Linked DNA regions of Homo sapiens: region 1 is linked to region 2. The links come from fine-mapping of genetic effects on gene expression. A gene starts in region 2. The other region holds a variant in brackets. All regions are shown on one strand. Distances are between the middles of the regions.

Region 1 (2,915 bases), 420 kb after region 2:
AGTCACAAAAAATTTCTATGTGTTTTACAAGTGTTAATGCTTTTGGTTTTGCATTTAGGTCTAGGATCAATTTTTAGCTAATTTTTGTATATGATGTGAGGTGCGAACCAAAGTTTATATTTTGCATGCCATTATCCAATTGTTCTAGCACCATTTGTCAAAAGACTATCTTTTCTCCACTGAATTGCCTTTTCACTGTTGCCAAAAAATCAGTTGTCTCTATATGTATGGGCCTGTTTCTGGACTCTGGTTTGGTCCATTGATCTATTTGTCTATTTTTTTTTTTTTTTGATGGAGTCTTGCTCTGTTGCCCAGGCTGGAGTGCAGTGGCGCGATCTCGGCTCACTACAAGCTCCGCCTCCCAGGTTCACACCATTCTCCTGCCTCAGCCTCCCAAGAAGCTGGGACTACAGGCACCCATCACCACACCTGGCTAATTTTTTGTATTTTTTTTTTTTTTTTTTTAGTAGAGACAGGTTTCACCGTGTTAGCCAGGATGGTCTCGATCTCCTGACCTTGTGATCTGCCAGCCTCGGCCTCCCAAAATGCTGGGATTACAGGAGTGAGCCACCGCGCCCAGCCTATTTGTCTATCTTAATACCAATACCACACTGTCTTTATTACTTTAACCTTAGTCTCGAAGTTAGGTAGAGCTAATCCTCTTTGTTTTTCTTTTATAAAATTGCTTTGGCTTTTCTAGGTCCCTTAAATTTCCAGCAAATTTTAGAATCAGCTTATCAATTTGTACATAAAAGCTTGATGAAATTTTGACTGGGAATACATTGAATCTATATATTAATTTGCAGCATATCTGCATTACAAAATATTGAGTCTCCTCATCCATGAACAGAAACAGTTCTGTACTTATTTAGGTTTTCTTTAATTTTTCTCAGTAATATTTTACAGTTTTCAGTTTGCATGGCTTGAGCATCTTTTGTCAGACTCATATGTAAGTAGTTGGTATTAATTGACGGTATTTTCATAGTTTTAAAAATTTCAATTTGTAACGTTCATTGGGAACAGTTAGAAATACAATTGAATTTTTATATTGATCTTTTATTCTGCAGCCTTGCTAACTCACTTAGCTTTTTTTATTAGCTTATTGTTCATTGAAGTTTTTACAGAAGTGATCACACTGCCATCAGATAAAGACAATTGTACTTTTCTCTTACCAATCAGGATGTGTTTTGTATAACTACTCTTGGCTTAGTAGCTAAAATATCTTGCACAATGTTGAAAGGAAGAGATAAAAGTAGACATCATTATCTCATTCCCCTTTTTAAGGGGAAAGCATTCAGTTTTCACTACTGAAAATAATATTAGCCATAGAATTTCCATAGGTGATGATTATTAGGTTAAGGAAATTCCCTTCTATTCCTAGTGTGCTGAGAGTTTTATCAGGAATAAATGTTGGATTTTGTCAGATGCTTCCCTCTGTATCAACCGAGAAGATCATAATAGATTTTCTTTTTTAGTTTTTTACCATGATAAATTACATTTATCAATTTTTAAATGTTAAACAAATCTTG[C/A]ATTTCTGGGACAAAACTTGATTTGGATTCAATTTGCTAAATTTTATTTAATATTTTTGTATCTATTTTCATGAAGGATATTGCTCTGTTCTTTTCTTTTTTTTTAACGTCTTTTTCCAGATTTTGTATCTAATAGAAAGTGAGGAATAATTTCTTCAATTATTTGGACTAGTTTTTTTAGAATTGGTATGAATTTTTCCTTAAACATTTCATAGAATTTACCAGCAAAACTATGTGGACCTAAAGTTTTCTTTTTTGGGGATAATTTTTTCCCATTTTTTTATTCAGATAAAATATGCATAACATAAAGTTTATTATATTAACCTTTTTTCTATTTTTAAAAATTATTTTTATAGACTTTATTTTTAGAGCCGGTTTAGATTCATAGCAAAATTGTACAGGAGGTATGGAGATTTCCCAGACCAATATATTTGTTACAAATGATAAACCTACATTGACACATCATTATCACCCAGAGCCCAGTGTTAATATTGTTAAAAATTGCTTTTTTTTTTTTTTTTTTTTTTTGAGACAGAGTCTTGCTCTGTCCCCTAGGCTGGAGTGCAGCGGTGTGATCTCAGCTCACTGCAACCTCCGCCAGCTGGGTTCAAGCAATTCTCCTGCCTCAGCCTCCTGAGTATCTGGGATTACAGGCACCCACCACCATGCCCAGCTAATTTTTGTATTTTTAGTAGAGACAGGGTTTCACCATGTTGGCCAGGCTGGTCTTGAACTCCTGACTTCAGGTGATCCGCCAGCCTTGGCCTCCCGAAGTGCTGGGATTACAGGCATGAGCCACTGCACCCAGCCCCTCTCTGTCTTTTTTAACTGCTGTTGCTTTAAAGTTTGTTTTGTCTGATATAAGAATAGCTACTCCTGATTGTTTTTGGTGTTTATTTGCATGAAATATCTTTTTCTACCCCTTTACTTTAAGTTCATGTGAGTTCTTATATGTTAGATGAGTCTCCTGAAGACAGCAGAAACTCGATTGGTGAATTCTTACCCATTCTACCATTCTGTATATATATATGTGTGTGTGTGTGTGTATATATAGATATAGATATAGATATTTTTTTTTTGAGATGGAGACTCGCTCTGTCACCCAGGCTGGAGTGCAGTGGGGCAATCTCGGCTCAGTGCAAGCTCCACCTCCTGGGTTCATGCCATTTTCCTGCCTCAGCCTCCCAAGTAGCTGGGACTACAGGTGCCTGCCACCACGCCTGGCCAATTTTTTTTTTTATTTTTAGTAGAGACAGGGTTTCACCATGTTGGCCAGGATGGTCTCGATCCCTGACCTGGTGATCCGCCTGCCTTGGCCTCCCAAAGTGCTGGGATTACAGGTGTGAGCCACCGCACCCAGCCATTCTGTATCTTTTAAGTGGAGCA
Region 2 (2,915 bases):
GTATTTATTGGCTTTTTTTTTTTTTTGGCCTTTCCGACTACAATATAAGCTCTATGACAGCAGGCACTGTATATCTCGGTGAGCTGTTGTATCCTCATTCCTTAGAACATTGCCTAGCCCATTTATGAATATTTGTTGAGCCACATGAATCAAGGCCTCCTTTTGAGATCGTGAACGTTTTCATTTATTTATTTATTTTTTTGAGACGGATTTTCGCTCTTTCACCCACGCTGGAGTGAAGTAACGCGATCTCTGCTCACTGCAACCTCCTCCCCGCCTCGGGTTCAAGCGATTCTTTTGCCTCAGCCTCCCCAGTAGCTGGGATTATAGACTCCTGCCACCACGCTCGGCTAGTTTTTGTATTTTTAGTAGAGACAGGGTTTCGCCATGTTGGCCAGGCTGGTCTCGAACTCCTGACCTCAGGTGATCACCCCCCCCCCCACTTGGCCTCCCAAAATGCTAGGCTTACAGCCATGAGCCACTGCGCCCGGCCATTTTTCTTTTTAAAAATAAACTTTCCAGATCTTAATTTCATGGCTTTAACATTTTAAATGTTTGAGGTATAATCTACTCATTCTTGGCTCTAATCTTTTTGTCAGGGAAGTTAAACTAGTGAGAGACCTATGAACAACAGCAACAATTTAATGAGCACGTCTTATATGCCAAGCTTTGTGGTTAAGCACTTTGCTTTATCTCACTTAATTCTAACTATGGTCCTAGAGGTTGGTATTACAACTAATCTCCTTTTACAGAGAGTTACTGAGACTTGGAGAGGTTAAATAACTTGCAGCCAGGTCACAAAATTAATCACTGAGTTGAGACGACAATTAAGGTATGGCCGACTCCATACTGCCTCCTAGCCGTCTCCTCGAGTAGTTCATGCCCTGTTAACTTAAGTCGTGAAGCTGCTGGTGTCAAAGCATTCCTTTTGCAGTTTCGTGTACTAGGGTTCTGGGTGATTTTGCACATATTTATTTCAAAGATCCTCCGTACCACACCAGGGAGTTTACCTTCTGGAATGTTGTTGAAGCCCCTGTCCTCTATGCTGGGACACTTTCATGCAACGTTTGCTTAGCCAGACTCAGGAAAACGCCTTTTTTTTTTTTTCTCATTTCCCTGCACTCCACATTAAACACAGAGGTAGTTTAAATCACCTGGTAAAAGAAGATGGGATCACAAACGCTGTGGTCCAGAAGGGAACATCAGTAAGTCGGTTCACCGCTTGCAAGTGGGGGCACTTACATATAAATGAAGAAAAAACAAGTTCTTAAAAAGCAGCCGACCCTGGGTTCTTAAAAAGCAGCCGGGGAAGAGGGCTCAGGGGACCGGACGCGGTGCCCCGCACCACGCTAGGCCTGACAACCGGAAGAGAGGGGCCAGGAGGGGCTCCTCCAGAGCGACTTCGGCTCCAGTAGGGAAACCGCCGAGGCTCCCCCAGCTCCAGGGAGCGCCGGGGACGCAGGCGGGAAGCCTCCATCGGGCAGCCGGCCTGGACTCACGACGCGGGGTGGGGCCGGCGCCCGCCCCGCCCCTCTCCTCGGGGATGCCGGGATGTTTACACTCCTGACAGCGGCGGCAGCAGGAGGAGGATCGGGAGTCGCGGGAGGATGGGCCGCCGCTAGGCTCGCACTCCGGACGCGCCTCGCAGTGCGCAGGGTGGGTGCCCCGCGCCTGCAGCGTCCGCCGGGGCGGCGCGGCGGGAGGTGGCCGACAGGCTCCGGGCCTCGCAGCCTCAGCCCCCGGCCCAGCGCGCTTTCCGACGGCGGCGCCGCGCCGAGCCACCCGCCCGCCCAAGGTCTCTCGCGGGCGGGAGAACGGAAAACTCCCAACTTCCTGGTGAGTCGCTGCCCAGGGTTCAGGCGCCCGGACCGGGCAGCTCCTGCCGGGAGGGGCCGCCTGCGGGAGTCGGGCCGGGAGAGGGAGGTCGGGACCGCGCGGGGCGGCCTCCGGGATACCCTCGCTCGGGGTAGGTGGGGCGGGGCGCGCTGCGCTCGAGGCGGATGGGGGTTTCGGTCTTGTTCGTTGGCAGCGGTGGGAGGGGGCGGCAGGAAACTTCATACCTGGCCCCGGCTCTAGAGGCCCGAGGCCGCCAAGGGCGCCGCGGTAACTAAGAAACTCCGTGGCCACGGCGGCGGCGGCAACAGGTCTTTGGTTTCGGGACCCGAGGAACTTAAGCGAAGTCCCGCCTTCCGGCGGATGCTCATTGGCGACGTCGGTTATTTATCTCTCGCGGATTGGTGAAGTCCGTCTGTCAGGATTCGGCAGCAGCCCGACTTAGGAAAGTGAAGTGCGCTGGGAGAGAGTGGGTGGTGGGAGCCGGCAGATAGGGGAGAATCCGAAGTGGCTTCAGAAGTACAGGGAGCGTGAGAGGTCTGTCGGAGAATGAACTTGGGAGAGACTCGGGATTACAAAATGTCGGAGAGAGGGATTGCGAGGCAATAGCGAACATTGCTGGTGATGGTGGCAATGGAAAAGAAATTGAAAACTGAGGCCAAAGTCAGAGAAGGGTAGCCAAAGGAAAACAGAGAAAAGTGACAAGACCGTATGACCGCAGAACAGTGTAAGGAAGCGAGCACAACCTAGAGGATGCTGCCTTGAGAGCTAAAGAACTTCTGTTGCCTCTGTTACACTGTAGGCCTTCACTCCTAAAACCGCAGCATCCTCTATTTAGTCTTGCACTGGGAGCGTACTGGGGTCGCGGAGAGATGATGTATCGTGTTCTCACCTTGCTGTAGTCCTCACTGGGGAGAAATGCTAAAAAATATACTTAGTTTACAGTAAGATACATGTTACTGTCCTTGCGCAATTCTGGTGACTGAACTGAAAATCAGAAATACACAGAAATAAAATGATTATTCTCCTTTGAGGTTACTGAGCTCAAGGATGCAATTGAAAACACCACATTTCCATAGTTT

What was found. PIP is the estimated chance that this variant, and not a neighbour inherited with it, causes the effect.
Region 1: its variant is the best candidate, but not a certain one, in a credible set for the expression of NEK7 in whole blood (TOPMed, PIP 0.56).

Annotation. Positions count from the first base shown.
Region 1 is chr1:198,578,076-198,580,990 of GRCh38, forward strand. No RefSeq gene overlaps it. Among named protein-coding and RNA genes, the nearest start is that of ATP6V1G3, 39 kb to the left of the region's middle. The variant C/A (reference allele first, on the strand shown) is at 1,530.
Region 2 is chr1:198,155,441-198,158,355 of GRCh38, forward strand. NEK7 (NIMA related kinase 7) reads left to right here and starts at 1,558. Exons shown (of 10, transcript NM_133494.3): 1 at 1,558-1,836. RefSeq lists enhancers at 744-803, 2,234-2,283 and a silencer at 1,394-1,993.